Regions from separate parts of the Homo sapiens genome. Here region 2 is linked to region 1. A link means that fine-mapping ties the variant in region 1 to the expression of a gene that starts in the linked region. Tissue or cell type: whole blood. Region 1 holds a variant in brackets; the other region holds the start of a gene. All regions are shown on one strand. Distances are between the middles of the regions.

The links. PIP is the estimated chance that this variant, and not a neighbour inherited with it, causes the effect.
Region 2: it holds the start of SMG9, and the variant in region 1 is fine-mapped to the expression of SMG9 in whole blood (INTERVAL, PIP above 0.99).

Annotation. Positions count from the first base shown.
Region 1 is chr19:43,771,849-43,782,491 of GRCh38, forward strand. KCNN4 (potassium calcium-activated channel subfamily N member 4) reads right to left here and starts at 9,125. Exons shown (of 9, transcript NM_002250.3): 1 at 8,855-9,125; 2 at 4,693-4,788; 3 at 2,344-2,771; 4 at 152-287. The coding sequence starts at 9,013. RefSeq lists a cis regulatory region at 2,759-2,798, enhancers at 5,957-6,457, 7,513-8,012, 8,371-8,500 and silencers at 6,704-6,753, 9,107-9,376. The variant T/C (reference allele first, on the strand shown) is at 7,031.
Region 2 is chr19:43,750,796-43,760,737 of GRCh38, forward strand. SMG9 (SMG9 nonsense mediated mRNA decay factor) reads right to left here and starts at 4,167. Exons shown (of 14, transcript NM_019108.4): 1 at 3,859-4,167. RefSeq lists an enhancer at 3,098-3,357 and a silencer at 3,588-3,947.

The DNA.
Region 1 (10,643 bases):
GAGAGAATGGGGCTCTGGGGGCCCCAGACACTCAAGTTTCTCAGGAGCTGTCCCTGAGAGCCTGTGTTGAACCCATTTAATCATGGCTTCCTGGGGCCAGAGGATGACCAGTTTGGGATAGGGATCATGTCCCCAAGGCAGCTGTACTCACCATGACTCCAGTGCACAGGCAGACGATCTTGCCCCACATGGTGCCCGGCACCACGTCACCATAGCCGATGGTCAGGAATGTGATGGGGATCAGCCAAAGTGTGTCTGAAAGGTGCCCAGTGGCATTAACAGCCTGCCTATGGGGAAGGGTAGGTTAGTTCTAAAACCCCACCATAGAGGTTTCCATGATATTCACTCCCCTTCCCTCTATACCCTCCCATCCCCTTCCCTCTGGTTCCCTCCCTTCCCCTCCCAGTATACACCCATAGTCCTAAGAATCACCTGGACAAAAAGCCATTAAGTTCTGAGCTTTGGAAAGCCTGCATGGCCTCCTCTCTGCTGTGTGACCTGGGCAAGTTGCTTAGCCACTCTGGGATTTGAGACTGGGTCTGGCCAATCCCAATGCCGGTATGGTCTCAGCTAGGCTACCCGGGCTGCTGTAGCATTCAGAGCGTGTGGTTGAGGGTGGAGAGTCGATAGGGGGCCAAAACCCAGTCAGACCCTGACTGGTGGCTACATCCACCCAGAGGAAGGGGTATATTTTTCTAATTTCCACAAAGATGCTGTGTGGTCCAGAAGTGGCCCTATCAGGACCAAAAAGGACTCTAAAAAGGCTTGGTGGGACTCGGCCTTCCTTTCCTCTCACTTCACAGAGGAGACATTTAAGTCCAGCCATGGAAGGGGTTGAAACATTGAGATTTGTCTAACTTTGTCCACAGGCCCCTTGCCGCAAGACCAGCAGGGAAAGCTTCATTCATGAGGGCCCCTGACACCCCAGACCCACCGGGTTGGAGTTTCTAGGAGCGAAGATGGAATCTGTACTGTTCACAAACCCCACCCCCTCATTCCGAAGTACATTCTAGTTTCAGGACTTCTGCCTTGGAATGTGGAACTTTGACTTCCTCCCCATTCTCCCATCATTCAATTGAGAAACATGGTGGGGGGATCATTCATTAATCCTGATTCTGACCAATTTCCCAATTGTGAAAACTAAGATCCTGGAAGGTGAAGGAGTTTAAACTCATGACAGAGGGCGGGCATGGTAATCCCAGCACTTTGGGAGGCTTAGGCAGGAGGATCACTTGAAATCAAGAGTTCAAAACCAGCCTGGGCAACACGGTAACGTGGTCTCTACTAAAAATACAAAAACTAGTCAGGCATGGTGGTGCACATCCGTAATCCCAGCCACTAGGGAGGCTGAGGCATGAGAATTGCTTGAAGCCGGGAGGCAGAGGTTGCAGGGAGCAGAGATTGTGCCACTGCACGCTAGCCTGGATAATTGAGACTCCAGATCAAAAAACAAGAACTGCCAGGGAGACTACAGATGGTGGAACGTGACATGCATTTTTCAGATGAGGAAACTGAGGCTCAGAGAGGAGAGATCTAAAGCCAGATCTTCTCATTCTCCTCCTGCCCTGAAGGATCTTTGCCACATACACTAGACCAGAGGTTCTCAACCTTGGTTGGGCCATAGAATCACCTGGAAGGCTTGCTAAAGTGGATTGCTGGCCCTACCCTCCAGGATTCAGTAGGTCTGGAAGGGACCTGAGAGTTTTCATTTGCAAGTTCCCAGGTGATGCTGCTGGTCTTGAAATCACACTTTGAGGACCACTGGCTGAGATCACTCCCAACCTCGTTTTTCTCTGAAAGGGATAGAAATTGAGGCGCGGCATCGGGTTACACAGTATCTAGCTGGCAACCAGGATCTAGTTCCAATTCCCTGCTTGGAATTATTTTCCAGAGCAGTTCCAAATCATCCCCTTCCTAGGATCACAAAAAGCACCTACCTACAGTGCATTCCGTGCTAATTGGGAAAATATGTCTCCTTCCTCCAAGGCAGAGGCAACCCTTTAGGCAGGTCCCAGAGATAGGTTCGGAGACCGAACAGATGGCCTGTAAACCTGAGGCAGAGGTCAGGCAGCCGGAAGGGAGGGGCTTTCTAGGGTCTGTGTGTGCGTTTGGGGAGACTGAAGGCTGCAGGTGGAGGATTGGCTGGGGGCTTGTCTGTTGGTTCCTCTCACCCCAGTTGATGGGAGTGTGGGCAAATTTCAGCCAGCAAGAGGAGAAGGGGTCAAAGTGTGAACTTTCTCCACTGCTTGGTCCTAGGGGGCCTCAACCTGCACCGCGGCACAGGACGGCCGCCGTGGCTGTCCGGGGTTCCCCCCTGCGCATTTATGCCTCCATCACCCTCACCTCTCGGCCACGGACAGCACCCAGGCGGTGGTCAGCCAGAGGCCAAGCGTGAGGCCGAGCAGCAGGCGGCCAGGGTGCGTGTTCATGTAAAGCTTGGCCACGAACCAGTGGCGGAAGCGGACTTGATTGAGAGCGCCGATGCTGCGGTAGGAAGCGTTGAGCAGGACGCCGCTGCGCAGGAGCACGGCGCGGGGCACCAGGTAGAGACGCAGCAGCATGGCCAGGGACAGCAGCGCTTCCCCTTGGCCCAGGAATCCCGGCCAGGGCTGCGGGGAGGTCAGCGGCGCCCCTAAATCCTGCACGCACGGCGGGCCCCGCACGGGCGCCGGGTGCAGCCCACACACCACCAGCTCCAGCACGATCTGCGCCGCCTGCCGCCCGGTCAGCGCCACGCGCCAGTCCCGCAGCCCGTTGTCGGTCATGAACAGCTGCCGGTAGGGGGCCAAGAAGGGAGGGGTCAGGAGCAGGTCAGGCGCAGGTCAGGCGGCGGCCCGCGCCTGCCTGCGCCCTGAGATAAGTGGGGTGTGCCGCCTGGCCAGGAGGGAGGGAGTGCAGGGCGGGAGAGGGATAGGGAGGGAGCGGGACAGGACTTGAGGAAGACATCTTTCCACTTTTTCCTCCTTCCCCACCACCCACCCCACTAGTTTCAGCCCACTTCCAGCCTTTGAACACTGACTGAGCGCCGACTGTGTGCCTGACATTGTTCTATGTGCTAAGGATACACAGTGAACCCAACAGACCCCCCTGCCTCCCTAGAGCTTGCATTCCACATGCCTGGAGCTCGCTCCTACTCCCCTTTCGGTTGACACGCGTAATAACTGTAATAATAATATCAGCAATAACAAAGCCATGGGCCGGGCGCGATGGCTTACGCCTGTAATCCCAGCACTTTGGGAGGCTGCGGTGGGTGGATCACTTGAGGTCAAGAGTTTGAGACAAGCCTGGCCAACATGGTGAAACTCCATCTCTACTGAAAAATACAAAAATAAGCCGGGCATGGTGGCGCACACCTATAGTCCCAGCTTCTGGGGAGTCTGAGGTAGGAGAATCACTTGAACCCAGGAGGCAGAGGTTGCAGTGAGCTGAGGTCATGCCACTGCACTCTAGCCTGGGTGACAGAGCGAGACTCCATCTCAAAATAAACAAAACAATAACAATAACAAAATCAGCATGTACTGGGCACCGTGGATACGCCAGGTACTGCTCTATCCCGTTTACATATTGTGACTTAGTAAATGCCCACAACCCAGTGAGATTGATATTATTATTGCCCCCATTTTATAGATGTGGAAGCTGAGGCCCAGGTCCCTTCCATGGGCAATGGCGCACTGGGCTACAGGCTACTTAGCTACTCTATGATAAGATGATAATGTGCACTGTTTACTGAGCACCTCTTATGTGCCAGGCACTGCTCATAGAATTGCCACACATGGCCAATAATCCCCATTTTACATGCAAAGTTATGATAGGAGAGGGGGAAGAGGGGAAAGGGAATGGAGCAACAGGATCTGGGGCAATGGGACAATAGGGGATGGGATGTGTCTGGGTGAGACCCAAGGTGGGGTATGGATGGGGAGAGCTCCTGGGTCTGGGGCAAGAGGGAGGTTATTGGCACAGAGATAGGGTGATTAGGAGTGGGCACCCCTGGGACCGGACCAGGTGCAGTGGCTCAAGCCCGTAATCCTAGCACTTTGGGAGGACAAGGTGGGCAGACTGCTTGAGCTCAGTAGTTGGAGACCAGCCTGGACAACATAGTGAAACCCCGTTTCTACTAAAATACAAAAAAATTAGCTGGGCGTGGTGGCATCTGCCTGTAGTCACAGCTACTTGGGAGGCTGAGGCATGAGAATTGTTTGAACCCAGGAGGTGGAGGTTGCAGTGAGCAGAGATCGTGCCACTCCACTCTAGCCTGGGCAACAGAGCAAGACCTTGTCTCAAAAAAAAAAAAAAAAAAAAAAAAAAAAAGGAGTGGGCAGCCCTAGGACCTTAGGTTGCTTGAGGACTGGATTGGGGATGCCATGTCGGAGCACAGAGATCTGGGAAGCTGAGTGCCTGGGAGCAGAGTGGACAGAGGCCTGGGGGCGGAAGCAGGGCTGCAAGGGCACTCTCAGCATCCGTGAGTGTGCAAGGGGGGGCTGGGGACTACAGGGGAAGGCGGAGCTGGTGGGGGAGGCTCTGCCTGTCTGCTCATGGTTCATCCCATCTGGGTAGGTGAGGGTGTGGACGCAGCACCTAGGGCAGAAGAACTTCATTACTCAGATCAGGAGGAGGAGGAGGGTGGAAAGTGTGAGCTGACAGGGCGCTGAGGGGGTTGGAGGGAGCAAGGCTTAGGGGCGGGGCCTGCCCTACCTGGACCTCTTTGGCATGAAAGGCCACGATGAGGCAGAGGAGTAAGAAGGTGGAAATGCTGATCGTGCATTTAACCAGGAACAGGTAGAGCGCCCACTGTCAGGGGGGACGGAAAAAGCGGTGTGAGATCCCAGGTCTCCCTCCGCCTGGCCCTCCACCTTTCCTTCAAAACCACCATTTTTTTTTTTTGATTCCCAATTTTCCTAGCCTCCTTCCCCTGCAAATCAGTCCCTCTTGATGTGTCGGTTCTGGAGAAGTCTCAAAACCATCATCTGGGCCCAGTGCGGTGGCTCACACCTGTAATCCCAACACTCTGGGAGGCTGAGGCAGGTGGATCACCGAAGGTCGGGAGTTTGAGACCCCCTGGCCAACATGGTGAAACCCAGTCTCTACTAAAAAAACAAAAAATTAGCTGGGTGTGTAATCCCAGCTACTTGGGAGGCTGAGGAACCAGAATCTTGAACCCAGGAGGTGGAAGTTGCAGTGAGCTGAGAGATCGCGCCACTGCACTCCAGCCTGGGCAACAGAGCGAGTCTCCGTCTCGAAACAAGCAAGCAAGCAAACAAACAAACAAAAAAACACCATCATCTGGTCCCCAGGAATGCTCTCTTTCTCCCCAACAGGACAACCCTGTCCAGATGCTGGTGTCTACCCTCTTCCTCAGCTCTTCTCCCAAGACCCATACCCATGAAGGGGGACCTTGAAACTCACATTCCTTCTTATTCCTGTCCCATTTCACATCAAAAATAGTTCTTCAGGTGTGTGTGTGTGTGTGTGTGTGTGTGGGTGTGTGTGTGTGGTGTCTAGAAAAAGACATCTAGCCTCTAGAGAGTGCCCCCTCCCCTTCCCTTCCTACCCACCTGGTGTTGTCCTAGAAACCAACTTCAATCAACCCCAACCCCAGATCTGGAAGAATGTAGAAACTACCATTCAATCCTCAAAGACTGAGTCACACCCTTCTCTGCTCTCATCCGGAGGGCTGAGTCCCTGAGACCCAGCCTCAGCTCTGAGACAGCCCCCTCGGTTCTGCCCCCCTGCAGCTCCCCACTGCCACCCCTCTCTTCTGGCTCTAAGCCCAGGGCAGATCTGGCCGGAAGCACAGGGCCTCCAGAAACCACGGAGAAATTGTTCCTTTTTTTTTTTTTCCTCTCTTTGTGTGGCACAACCTTGGAGGAATCTAGAATTCTGGAGAGAGGGATTTAGAGGGGACTGGGACTGTTGGATTTCCTAAGAGGGGTTGGTCCCTGCCTGGCGGGTATTTGCAGGGGGAGGGGACCACCTGGGCGTCCTTACAAAGCATTGCACCTGTTTCTCCTAAGAGGGCTGCCAGCTCCCCTGGCTGGGCCAGCATCCCGCCTCTGAGCAGGGGAAGAGGGCCAGTTTCCTGCCCCAGGGGCCTGCTCCCCAACCCCCTATCAGAACAATAGTGCTGTTGTCACCAGCCCTCCCCCACCTTCTATGGCTCCCTGGTTCCCTGCCTCTTTCTTCAGTCTGTCTTAACTGCCCACACCACTAGACAACAAGCTCCCTCCTCACACTGCAATTTGCTTCTCTGGTGGTCCTCTCTACTTTTCCATTTCCTCTTCCCCCAAATCCCGGACCTGTCTGCACTTGGGCCTGTACTCTGTTCTCTGAATTTCCCTGTCTCTAGGGATGGTTGTTGCTGTCTTTCTATGTGTTTTGAGGGTCTTTGTTTCTATTGTCTCTTTTTTTTTTTGAGACGGAGTCTTGCTCTGTCACCCAGGCTGGAGTGCAGTGGCACGATCTTGGCTCATTGCAAGCTCCGCCTCCTGGGTTCACACCATTCTCCTGCCTCAGCCTCCTGAGTAGCTGGGACTACAGGCACACGCCGCCATGCCTGGCTAATTTTTTGTGTTTTTAGTAGAGATGGGGTTTCACTGTGTTAGCCAGGATGGTCTCGATGTCCTGACCTTGTGATCCGCCCACCTCGGCCTCCCAAAGTGCTGGGATTACAGGCGTGAGCCACCGCGCCCGGCCCTCTATTGTCTTTTCTAACGCTGTGTGTGTATCTCTCACTGGTGGATTTCTCAGTAGCTTGATAGCCCTATTTGTCTTTCTCTTTAGCTGTACTTCTCTATCTTTCTGCATTTTTGTCTCCATCTCTCTTTTTCTCTCCATGTATCTCTGTGTCTCTGTCTCTCTCTGTACCTCTCCCCATCCCTCCTCCTCCACCCCACCTGGTGCTTTTGGATATCTCTATCCAGTTCCCTTGGACTCCCTAGGGTTTTGCACCTGCCTCTCTGCCAGCCCCTCCCCCTGGGGAGCAGGTGTCTGGGTCCTTTGCAGAAATGAGCTCATTAGATTGAGATGGAGGTGG[T/C]GAGGGGCGGTGGATGTTATTAAGAGAGTCCTCAAAAGGGGACTGAGGAGCTGTGGCTCAGGCCTGTAATCCCAGCACTTTGAGGCAGGAGGATTGCCTGAGTCCAGGAGTTCAAGACCAGCCTAGGCAACAAAGCAAGGTCCCATCTCTACATAAAATAAAAAGGGTGGAGGGTGACCCTTAGGGTCATGTATTTTAACCCTCACCCCAATTTACAGATGGGGAAACTGAGGTTCAGAGGGTTGTAACAGCTTCCCCAAGGTCCCACTGATAGAGGCAGTGGCCTGGCCATGGTGGAGGGAAGGAAGAAATGAGGGGTGAGAAAGCAGAGGGGTGAAGTGGGGTAGGATGGACCCCGTCTCTTCCCATCTGCCAGGGTCACTGTGTTCCCACCTCGGCTTCTGGGTGCGGTGCTTCGGCGTGGGAGCGGCGGGCAGGCCCCGGCCATGCTTCCTGTTGGCATGGACTTCGGCGGCCCCACCCCCTCAGTGCCCGCCGCCTGCCAGAGGAAGCTGCATGCCTGACCCTCCATGTGGCTCCTGGTCACTTCAGAGCTGCCCACCACCCCCTCCAGATCCAAGTCGGAACATCAGACCCTCAGGAATCTACCCAATCTTCATATCAGTGTCCGCATCTGGCCCTACCAGCCCAGTTCCACAACCCTTCTGCCAGAGAGGTCTCCAGCCCCTCCTTTCCTGTTGAGCAAGTCTGTTCTCCCCTCAAGCCACTTATTCCAACCCTTGTCCTTGATCTGCCCCATCACTGGCCTGACCAGGGCTGGAATGTGACGGGAGCCTGCTGAGACCTGCCCTGACCCCACTTTCCCCTTTCTTCCCTACTCACCACTCATCTTCGGAGTCAGCCCCTCTTCCCCAAAAGCAATCAAAACCCCCTTCTCCTTAAGACTCAGGAATCCAGGACCCAGCCCCCTCCTCTCCTGGTACCTAGGAGTCCAGGCCACTGTAAGCCTACCTCTCCACTATTTCCCTGACTAATCAGCATGCAGATTTGGGGAGAAATTGAGCTTGTTAACAGTGGAGACTGGGTTGGGGTTGGTGGGGGGAGGCAGGTCGGGGGAGAGGTTTGTTTCCCATTTCCCATCCCCACCCCCAAGGCAGTTTTTTCTGTCCTTTGCATCTAAGGCACTGGGTAAACATTAGAGGTTAGACAAGGACCAAAGAGCTGCCGCCTACTGGAAGAACTTTGTCTTTCCTCCACTCTCCCTTCACCAAACCTGGGGCTACCTCTCCCCTTATTGGCTCTTGGGGGGCTTGAGTGTCTGATCAGCCACCCTCTGGCCTCCAGGGGTCCTGGACCTCTGGCCGTCTAATGGCAACATCTTCAAAGACTGAAACACTGAAACAAATATTCCCTTCCTTTTGCAGAGAAGGACCCCAGCAACTGTCTCCTGGGAGCACCCAGGAGTCCCAGCCAAAGCCCCTCCTCCCTCAGACCCAAGAGTCTAGGCCCCCAACCTCTCCTCCCTCAGATCCAGGAGTCCTGACCCCCAGCCCCTCCTCCCTCAGACCCAGGAGTCCAGACCCCAGCCCCTCCTCCCTCAGACCCAGGAGTCCTGACCCCCAGCCCCTCCTCCCTCAGACCCAGGAGTCCAGGCCCTCAGTCCCTCCTCCCTCAGACCCAGGAGTCCAAGTCCCCAGTCCCTCCTCCCTCAGACCCAGGAGTCCTGACCCTCAGCCCCTCCTCCCTCAGACCCAGGAGTCCTGACCCCCAGCCCCCCCTCCCTCAGACCCAAGAGTCCTGACCCCCAGCCCCTCCTCCCTCAGACCTAGGAGTCCCAGCTCCCAGCCACCATGCCCCACTCACCGAGCACCCCCCGAACCACAGCATCTCTGCATGCAGCACCATGAGTCCAATGCCAGTTCCTGCCAGCACCAGTGCCCAGCCGGCCAGAGACTTCTCCTGCTCCAGCAAGCGCTTTCGGCGTCTCAAGGCCCCCAGGCCAAGCACCAGATCCCCGCCCATGGCCCCCGGGGTCTTGGGGCTCAGCCAGCTTCCTGCCCAGGGTCCCCCACCTCGCAGCACGCACAGGGCAGCCACTGTGGCTTGCAGGTCGTCAGCCTGCTCTGCTGGCTCTGGGACTTTTGCTCTGAGGCACAGCAGAGCCCTGTGCCCTCTGGGGAGTGGTGACGGCCAGGCAGGGCGGGGAGGGGCAGGGGAGGCCCCAGGGTAGGGGGAGGCTCCCCAGCTCCCCCTTTTGAGAATAAGGAGGGGCTAGGGTGTGTCTTGGGGCAGAGCAAGAAAGAGACGTCCATCCACGTGGATAAAGACACACACAGACACACGATGGGCTTTGTCACACACAATGGTCTGTACTTTGTGACACACACCTCTACTCACCACACCCAGACACCGAAGGACACTCCACAGCCCAAGACGGAGACTAACACACCAGGGCACACAACACAACCTACACAGAGTGACTCACAACTCCCAGCAAGCTCTGAAACCCACAGCCACACCCAGACACCACACACATGGTGTGACACACACCAGCACTTAGCAAGCAGGCAGTATCCCGTGGCACACACAGCCACCCAAACACCGTCCACACACAGGCACAAATATTACACTCAAAGTTGTCACAACTTTCTCTGACACAAAGAGCCACACCCAAACACCACAAATAGGACGATGCACAACTGTGGCCACACAAACACAACATACACCAGGTGTTACACAAACACACAATATATATTAAAGTAGTGACGCCCTGATGCCACACACCACACACCGACACAAACACTGTGCAGTCCCAGTTTCCTAAACACTACACACCCTTGGAACGAAACCCAATACGTGTAGACACACAACATTTAGGGACATACCTATAGTAGCCCCCAATCACCCAGAGCTAGAGAATTGCACATACATTGTGGCGCCTGTTGACTCGAACACAAGTGCTCGCAGTGATGATTCAAAACACGCACTGATTCAGCATGCTCTGATGTGTGGTGCGATTCAAATGTATGGTCAGAGGACAAGCTGAGTGGATGCATGCAGAGACCTACAAGGTACAGCGACACACGGAGAAACCCAAGAAGCACATGCCTGAAGCAAGATGATTCTGGTATATTCTGGCCACACAGGACAACATCCAGGATGATGCCCTGGGGGAAGGGGATGGGGTTGGACCTTCATAGACCCCAGTGCCCAAATGCAACATACGGCTGGGTGCAGTGGCTCATGCCTGTAATCCCAGCAGTTTGGGAGGTTGAGGTGGGAGGATTGCTGGAGCCCAGGGGTTTGAGACCAGCCTGGGCAACATAGCAAGATCCTATCTCTAAAACAAGCAAAAACAAAAAAACAAACGCAACATACACCATCACCTCTGAGCCATGAGCCACACCCAAACATGACATACAATACCTCCACACAACCCAACACGTTATATTCCAACATGCGTGGCCACACAACAACATACGCGGAGTAATACACCAGCACACAGTAACGCAAAACACATAAACACAATGTTTTCCAACACACCCAACCTTCCACAAACGACCACATGTCCCATAAAACACCAGATGTCACCACTCACTGATACTACTGACACTGAGGTCTACCGCCACCCACACAACACCAGCATCGGGGG
Region 2 (9,942 bases), 21 kb before region 1:
CTACTTGGCATATCCTAGACTATACGAAGTCCCTTCTTTCTTTTTTTTGGAGATGGAGTCTCTCTGTCGCCCAGGCTGGAGTACAGTGGCCTGATCTTGGCTCACTGCAACCTCTGCCTCCTGAGTTCAAGCAATTCTTCTGCCTCAGCCTCCCAAGTAGCTGGGATTACAGGCACCCACCACCATGCCTGGCTAATTTTTATATTTTTAGTAGAGATGGGGTTTCACCATGTTGGCCAGGCTGGTCTCGAACTCCTGACCTCAGGTGATGCACCTACCTTGGCCTCCCAAAGTGCTGGGATTACAGATGTGAGCCACTGTGCCCAACCAAGGCTCTTCCTTTCTTCTTTTTTTTGAGACAGAGTTTCGCTCTTGTCACCGAGGCTGGAGTGCAATGGCGTAATCTCGGCTCACTGCAGCCTCCACCTCACAGATTCAAGCAATTCTCCTGCCTCAGTCTCCTGAGAAGCTGGGATTACAGATGCCCACCACCACACCCGACTAATTTTTTTTGTATTTTTAGTAGAGATGGGGTTTCACCATGTTGGCCAGGCTGGTCTCAAACTCCTGACCTCAGGCAATCCACCTGCCTCAGCCTCCCAAAGGGCTGGGATTATAGGCGTGAGCCACCATGCCCGGCCAAGGCCCTTCCTTTCAACAGAGCTCTGGGCCTGTGGTAGCAACTGCAAGCTGGTTCCCAACATCCACTCCTGACTTCTTCCAAAAAAGTAAAACCCTCAGTTCTGAGCTAGGTACATGGCTATCCAGAACAAACTTCTCATCCTTGTTTGCAGTTAGGTGTGGCCATGTGAGTAAGTACTTTCTGGCTATGGTATGACACTAGAAGTGTGGCTTGGCAGCTTCCAGAAACTTCCCTTCACAGACTCTGGCACATGCCTTCTGCCCCTTCCTCCCAGTGACAGGAATGTGGGTGTGGAGGTTGGAGCTCAAGCAGCTATCCTGGGCTGTAAGGCAATTTAATGGAAGGTACAATAAAACAAGACACAAGGTTGGGGGGTTCCACGTTAACCTTGAATTGCCTACTTCGAGAGGCAGTGAAAAACAAATACACATCTATCTCTTACTTGCAGCCAAAACTATTCCCAACTATTAAAATGCTCCAACATAAATAAACTCACAGGGGCAAGTTCACATAAAAATAGGATATTCTCCTTACCAAAATGCAGCAAGGCATTTGCTTACAAACCAGCAATGTGATCCTCAGTCCAACAGCTACTCTTGATTAGTCATTACTAGTGTATGTCATGGTGGGGCTCCAGCCACTTACTAGTGTATGTCATGGTGAGGTTCCAACACTCAAGGGCCTATTTTCACCTGGTATCCCACTACATTTCAGTGTCTGTCTGTCTTCCGTTCCTGACGGTCTGCCTTCCCTCACAGTGAATTTCATTTCAAGGTGTCTCCAGTGTTTATTCTATTTGAGATGTTATATAATGTCTGGCTACCTATGCAACCCACTCTCCACCATTTCAGTATCTGTTTACAGGTCCTTAGAGAGTTTTCCCAGCTGTTCACACATCAGTCTAGGGTGGTATTTGACTACTTAACTGTTTGTAGAACTCAGTGGGGCTATCTGCTCAAGCTCAGAAGTCAGGTTGACAAAGTGTGGCCTAGGGGCCAAATCTGGTCTGCTTTCTGTTTTTGTAAATAGAAAGTTTTATCGGAACATGGCCACATCCATCAATTTAGAAACTGTCTGTGGCTGCCTTCTTGATGCAATGGCAGAGCTGAGACAGACAATACAGTCTGCAGGGCCTAAAATAATTATTCTCTGGCCTTAACAGAAAGTTTTACTGAATGGCCGAGTATGGTGGCTCACACCTGTAATCCCGACACTTTGGGAGGCCGAGACAGGAGGACTGCTTCAGCCCAGGAGTTCGAGACCAGCTTGGGCAACATAGCAAGATCCTGTCTCTATATAACATTTAAAAAAGAAAAAAGTAGCTGGGCGTGGTGACATGCACCTGTAGTCCCAGCTACTTGGGAGGCTGAGGTGGTGGGATCACTTGAGCCTGGGAGGTCAAGGCTGCCATGATCATGCTGCACCACTGCACTCTAGCCTGGGTAACAAAGCAAGACCCTGTCTAAAAAAAAAAAAAAGCAGAACCCTGTCTCAAAAAAACAGTTTGCTGACCCTTGCTTAGCTTGGAAGTATCTGTTAAATCCCTCCATGAATCCTCCCCTGCCCCACCTCATAATGACATAAACAGGTCCCTCCGAGACTCTCCAGAATGGAAGGGTCTGTTTACAAGATGCAGTCATAATTTTGCTAGCCAGACAAGTGGCTTGTCTAGCTCCTCTCCTACTGTGCTACATGACCTCTCCCAGAGCCACAAGCCAGGCTGAAGACTGCTTTCCTAGACAGAGGAGGACAAGGGCCTGTTTACAGCTGCTTAGGGAAAATGACTCATTCCATACCGAAATGACTGCTTAGTCTGGGATGGAGATTCTCCCCAGAATCTGAGACTCCTCCCTCACTTGCAATTAAGTGTCTTTACACATTATTCTGAAATCTACCCAGTGCTTAAGTACTTGTCTTCATGCCTCAATTGGGATACTGCCCAGCCCTGAGGTTTCTGTTTACTGGCCTATGAGGATGCCCTTTCCTGTGCAAAGTAAGCGCCCCTGTGTGAATGCTTTTCTTTTTTTTTTTTTTTTTTTTTTGAGACGGTCTTGCTCTGTTGCCCAGGCTGGAGTGCAGTGGCACGATCTCAGCTGGCTGCGGCCTCTGCCTCCCGGGTTCAGGCAATTCTCCTGCCTCAGCCTCCCAAGTAGGTGGGATTACAGGTGCATACCACCAGGCCGGGCTAAGTTTTGCATTTTCAGTAGAGACGGGGTTTCGCCATGTTGGCCAGGCTGGTATCGAACTCCTGGCCTCAAGTGATTCGCCAGCCTCGGTCTCCCAAAGTGATCGGATTCCCCGGGTAAGCCACCGCACCTGGCCTCCCTGTGCCCTTTATTCTGGGAGCTTCCACAGTATCTGAATGTGGGGAGTTCCTTGGAACTTAAAAGCCCACCTAAACCAGGTGTGGAGGATACAGTGAGCCGAGATCGTGCCACTGCACTCCAGCCTGGGCGACAGAGCGAGACTCTTGTCTCAAAGAAAAAAAAAAAAAACCCCACCCACATGCAAGCTGGGGACTTCCAATGCTGTTTCCGGGCTCCTTTGGGGATTACCCCCAAACTTAGGAAAGCTGGTCTATTTAAGTGTCTGCTGATGGACTTCTAGGGTGACTTCCCGAAAATTAACAAATCGAATTTACATATTTTTGGGGAGTGTCTCCTCAGTATTTAGGCATCGCTTCACACACTCCCTTCGGGGATCTCCCAGAACCTCACTATTTGCAAATATTTGGGGAGACTCTCCCGATTCCTGAGTATGTAAGCCCACTTCGTGGGGCACTCCCCAGCCCAGAACTGTAGTCGATTTGCACATTTTCCTAAGGACTCCCTAGGATTTAAACTTCTCTCTACGGGGTTCTAGAAGGGAGCCTCCCCCGGATTTAGGCATTGCTTTACAAAGCTTCCCTCGGGGAACCCAACTCAAGTTTCTCGTTACACGTTATTGGGGCGGCCTCCCCAGTACTTGACGGGCAGTTTGCAGGCTGTACTTGGATCTCGCAGAGCATAAGTTTCTCATTTACACGTTATTTCCGTCCCCCGCCCCCATTCCTGCCAACCCAGTATCGAATTGACGGTCGCCGGCCCCCTACTCAGTGCCGCACCCCCGCCGGACGTCCCAGCGACCTTTCAATGGCCAAGGCGGGGGCGGGGCCTGCCGGAGCGCCCCGCCCGCCGCCGGTGCGCTAGCCTCGCGCGGGCTCGCGGCCCCCTTACCTAACGCGGCTGCTGATTGGTTCTCGGGGCGCGGTGTGCGCTCTCCCGTGACGGGAGTCGGGTGGGGGCGGGGAGGCTGACCCAAGCCACCCGCCTGCAAATGGCGTCTGGGGGCCAGGAACGTGGGAAGGAGAGAAAATGGGCACTCCCCACTCCGAAACCGGCCTCGGCGTCCGGGTTGCAGCCCCTAAGGAAAGCTGGGCCGAAGGAAGAAGAGGAGGAGGATGTAACGCGGGCCCGAGCTGAGATCAGTTCCCTCAGGCGACTCGTCCTGCGCATGCGCTGAGGGCTGGAGCTCGAGAACTGAATGCGCTCGCCGGGCTGAGCGTGCGTGGATGGAGGCGGTCGGCTTCAGCACGCATGCGGGTTCCGGAGCGGGAGGCGGGAGGACGCCGCGGCTCTGACTCAATGCGCGTGCGCGCGGTTGGGGGGTTGAGGGTGGGGAGATGAGTAGGGAAATGGATACGCCGAGGAGCCGGCAGGAGGGAGAGCGGCCCGGATCTGGGGTTCGAGTTGTGCCTCTTCGGTGATGTTGGCGGGATGCAGTGGGGTGGGACGACAGGGAGGAATTTCACTGTTCTGGGCTGAGTGCCAAGAACACATGAATGAATCAGACTTGGCGTGCGCCCTGGAAGACACCCCGGCCTGTGGAGAGACTGCCAGGGCCTCAAATCACTTAGGAAAGGGCGCGGGTCCGGTTGGACCTTGAAGGACAGGCAGGCGAGGGTACTCCAGGGAACAGCTAAGCAAAGGCGGCGAAGACCCCGGGGGAAGAGGTCTAGACTGGCTTGGATTCAGGGTCCACCTGGGTGGGAGGTGAGGCAGCAGAATGGGCAGGTCAGACCCTGAAGGGTCTCCAGTGTCAGTTTTATCCTTAAGGCCTGGGAGATGCAGAATAGTCTGAGACAGAACTATGTTTAAAACCCTCGAAGGCCGCGTTGGAGAAGGGAATCCGCTCCAGGGTCGAAAATTTAAACACACGTGGGCGGAGTCTTGCGCGCGCCAAAGAGGAACATTGGGCGACGGGCGCGGCCTGGAGAGCGCATGCGCATTCGGAAGGGTCGGCAGTTCCCCAGTGGGCAGAGTGGGTGGATGGGAAGGTTCTAGCTTTTTATTTGAAATTTTATTTATTTTTATTTTATTTATTTATTTAGAGACGGAGTCTCGCCCTGTCACCCAGGCTGGCGTGCAGTGGCGAGATCTCGGATCACTGCCGTCTCCACCTCCTGAAATTCAAGCGATTCTCCTGCCTCAGCCTCCCAAATAGCTGGGATTACAGGCGTCCACCACGCCTGGCTAATTTTTTGTATTTTTAGTAGAGACTGGGTTTTGCCATGTTGGCCAGGCTGGTCTCGAACTCCTGACCTCAAGTGATCCGCCCGCCTCGGCCTCCTAAAGTGCTAGGATGACAGGCGTGAGCCACCGTGGCTGGTCTAAAAAAAAGTTTTTTAAAATTATATTTGAACAGGTATTACATGTACATACACAATTCAAACCTCTCTGGCTGTATACAATAAAAGTAAGTTTCCACCTCTGGTTCCCATTTTCCTTTCCTAAAGCACTGGTTCCCGGTTTCCTTCTGGAGCTGCTGTTATAATAAAGCATTGGAGTTAAGAGCATGTGTTGAGTTCATATAAATAGCGGCTGAGCTTGACCAAGTGACTTAATACTCTCTACTTCTACGTCCCTGTTTGTGAATTGGGTGTGGTATAACCTTACTTACAACATTGCCGCCAGCATTAAATGGGTGAGAGTGCATAGAACAGTGCCTGTTGCCTAATGGTACTGTGTGTTGTCTCTGTGTATTATTTTGTGGTCTACCATGCTGATAGTTGTAGATTCTGAGCAGCCCTCTCCCCTCCAGGCCTCATCCCTACTGTCATTGTCCCAGTACCAGTACCAGGTGGAGCCACCTCTCCAGGCTGCCACAGGTAGAAACACCAGTCACCCAGAATGACTTGAGTCCACTGTTGATGGATTCTGGGGAAAGATTCTGGGTGTTTGATAAAGATACACATGACAGGCCATCTCTGTATTATGTCTATCAGTGTCCAATTTTACTTCTTCAGCTCAGGCCATATCTGAATTTCTCAACCCCAGATCACTCACGATTGCCAGTTTCACGTCAGGGCAACCCTCAGAGGTAGAATTTTCTTAAAAGAGGGAAAGAGGAGGCCTGGCATTGACCTTGGACCCACTGTGTACCAGGCTGTGTGCTCTCTGCTTTATATACATCACTATAATCTTCTCCCCTAATTTGTTTAACAGATGTTGGTCCGCGCAGTGACTCACGCTTGTAATCTCAGCACTTTGGGAGGCCGAGGCAGGCAGATCACCTGAGGTCAGGAGTTCAAGACCAGCCTGGCCAACATAGCGAAACCCCATCTCTACTAAAAGTACAAAAATTAGCCGGGTGTGGTGGCATGCGCCTGTAATGCCAGCTGCTCGGGAGGCCGAGGCACGAGAATCACTTGAACCCAGGAGGTGGAGGTTGCAGTGAGCTGATATCGCACCACTGCACTCCAGCCTGGGTGACAGAGTAAGGCTCTGTCTCAAAAAAAAAAAAAAAAAAAAAAAAAAACAGATGTAGACAAATGAGCCTGGAAGAGAGAAGGGCCTTACCGAAGTCCCCATAGGCAGGAAGCAGCAGGGCCTGGATTCAAACCCGGGCCTGGATTCAAACCCAAGCCTGTCTCACTCCAGAGCAAGCCTACACTTTTTCCCTGGCACCGGGGAGCCAGCCTGGTGATGAGTCAGCAGTACAGTCAGGCACCCAGTGAGCTGCCTTTTGTATTAGTGGCATGGTATGCTGTTCTGGAGATATATCATACTTTAACACTTTCTCTGTTGATGAGCATTTAGACTGTTGCTGAACTTCTGCTCTTACAAACATTTACTGCAGGGGTTTGTGTGTATGTTTCTGTTTTCTAATTTTTTCTTTTTCAGACATGTTCTTGCTGTCTCGCCCAGGCTGGAGTCATGTAATACAGTTGTGGCTCACTGCAGCCTCAACCTCCTGGGCTTAAGCAATCCTCCCACCTCAGCCTGAGGAGTAGCTGGGACCACAGGCATGTGCTACCACACCCAGCTAATTTTCTATTTTTTGTAGAGACGGGGTTTCACTATGTTGCCCAGGCTGTCTCAAACTCCTGGCTCAAGCAGTCCTCCTGCCTCAGCCTCCCAAAGTGCTGAGATTATGCTACAGTTAATATCCTGGTACACGTGGCTGCATGTATATGTTAGTATTGTCAGTAGACTATCTCATTTGAAGTGCAAGTAGAATTGCTGGGTCAAAGGGTATGCACATTGGGAATTTTGAGAGCCATTGCCAAATGATCTGTTCATGTCTTTATTTTTTGTTTTTGAGACAGGGTCTCCCTCTGTCACCCAGGCTGGAGTACAGTGGCATGATCATAGCTCACTGCAGCCTCAGCTTCCCAGGTTCAAGCAATTCTCCTGTCTCAGCCTCCCGAGTAGCTGAGACTACAGGCATGTGCCACCACACCCGGCTAATTTTTGTATTTCTTGTAGAGACAGAGTTTCACCATGTTGCCGAGGCTGGCCTCAATCAATCCTTCCACCTCAGCTTCCCAAAGTGCTGGGACTACAGGTGTGAGCCACTGCGCCTGGCCCTGTTCATCTCTTTTTCACTTTTTGTTCATTTCTTTCATTTATATGTTGAATGAATTATGGAACTCTAGTCATCTGCCAGGCACAGCTGTAGGCTGGAGATCCTGTAATGAATAGGAAAAGCACCTGCCCTTTGGGAGCAGATATTCTAGTGGGGCAGATGACATCAGATAAAGGATGCTTGGAAGAAAAGAAAATCGGGGGTGAGGATTGGGAAGACATTGCAAAGGATACAAAATTTCATTTAGACAGGAGGAATAAATTCAAGAGATCCAGTCCACAACATGGTAACTATAGTTAGTAACAATGTATACTTGAAAATTGCTAAGAGGATAAATTTTCAGTGTCCTCACCACAAAAATGATAAATATGTGAAATAATGCATATGTTAATTAGCTTGATTTAGCCATTGTACAATGTATAAATATACAAAACATGTTGTACACCATAAATATATACAATTTTTATTTTTCAATTAAAAATAAAGTCAGGTGCCGGGCGCAGTGGCTCACGCCTGTAATCCCAGCACTTTGGGAGGCCGAGGCGGGCAGATCATAAGGTCAGGAGATCGAGACCATCCTGGCTAACATGGTGAAACCCCGTCTCTACTAAAAATACAAAAAATTAGCCAAGCGTGGTGGCGGGCGCCTGTAGTCCCAGCTACTCCGGAGGCTGAGGCAGGAGAATGACATGAACCTGGGAGGCGGAGCTTGCAGTGAGCCAAGATCGCACCACTGCACTCCAGCCTGGGCAACAGAGCGAGACTCTGTCTCAAAAAAAAAAAAAAAAGTCAGGTTACAGGAATTGACAGTGATAGAGGTCACAGAGAGTGACAGGTGGCCAGGGAAGGCCGCTTTGAGGGGATGACATTTGATCAGAGGCCTGAATGCAGTTAAGGAAGGTCAGGAAATGAGCCATCTAAAGATGCTGAAGAACGGCCAGTAAAAGACCCCAAAGTGGGAGTGGGCCTGGCTGTCCAAGGATGGTCAAGGTGGCCAGAGTGGCTGAAACAGAGCAAGGGAGGGAAAGAAGGGCAGGATTATTTAGAGACGGAGCTGTAGACAGGGCCAGTTTACATAAAGTCTTACAGGCCATGGTAAGCATTTGGAATTTACTTCCAAATGTAACAAAGCCATTGCAGGGCTACAAACAAGCACCGGCTTGTTCCAATTAATGTTTACAAAGACTTCTCCAGTGAACAACAAAAATTAACAGTGATTGCCTATAGGGATGAGGGTTATAGACAGATGTGGGTCAGGGCTATGGGAACTTAAAAAGCGTTGTTGTTTTTTTAAACCACGTAATTATTAGCTATGCGCAAAAATGTTCAGTGAAAACAGTGCTGGTTGCTGTGAGGAGAATGGCCTGCAGGGGCGGAAGCAGGAGATGAGAAAGCTGGTGTCCTTGCCTGGGCAAGAAAGGATAGTGGTTCTGGAAGAGGGTGGTGCTAATAGATGAGTTGAGAAGGGTCAGGAACTGGGATCTTTTTTGAAGGTAGCGCCAAGAAATTAAACATGGGGTGTGAGAGGAAGCATGAATCAGGGGTGACTTGAAAGTCATCCTAGAGATCTGTTGTACAACAGGGTGACTCTCATTCATAACAATGTGTTATATGCTTGAAACTTACTAAAATAATAGATTTTAAGTTTTCTCACACCACAAAAAAATAAGTATGTGAAATAATGCATATGTTAATTAGCTTGATTTAGCCATTCCACAATGTGTACATATATTAAAACATCATGTTATTTGCAGCATTAAAAAAAGTTCTAGCGGGGAGGGGGGAGGGATAGCATTAGGAGATATACCTAATGCTAAATGACGAGTTAATGGGTGCAGCACACCAGCATGGCACATGTATACATATGTAACAAACCTGCACATTGTGCACATGTACCCTAAAACTTAAAGTATAATAATAATTAAAAAAAAAAAGTTCGAGAGGTTTTGGTCCTGGCCAACTGCCTGAAGACTGAGACTTTTTTTTTTTTTTTTTTTTTTTTTTTTTTGAGATGGAGTCTTGCTCTGTCGCCCAGGCTGGAGTACAGTGGCGTGATCTCGGCTCACTGCAAGCTCCGCTTCCTGGGTTCATGCCATTCTCCTGCCTCAGCCTCCCGAGTAGCTGGGACTACAGGTGCCCACCACCACGCCCGGCTAATTTTTTTGTATTTTTAGTAGAGTCGGGGTTTCACCATGTTAGCCAGGATGGTCTCGATCTCCTGACCTCGTGATCCACCCGCCTCAGCCTCCCAAAGTGCTGAGATTACAGGCGTGAGCCACCACGCCCGGCCTAAGACTGAGGCTTTTTACCGGGATGAGGAAAAGTACTTTTGATGGGAAATCAACAAGCTTTGAAATTCTTAACTTTGAGATGCACGTTGGTCATCAAATAAGTGGTTGGAGTTAGGGGAAAAAGCCGGGGTTTGTAGATAAAGACTTTCTGACTTTGCGTCA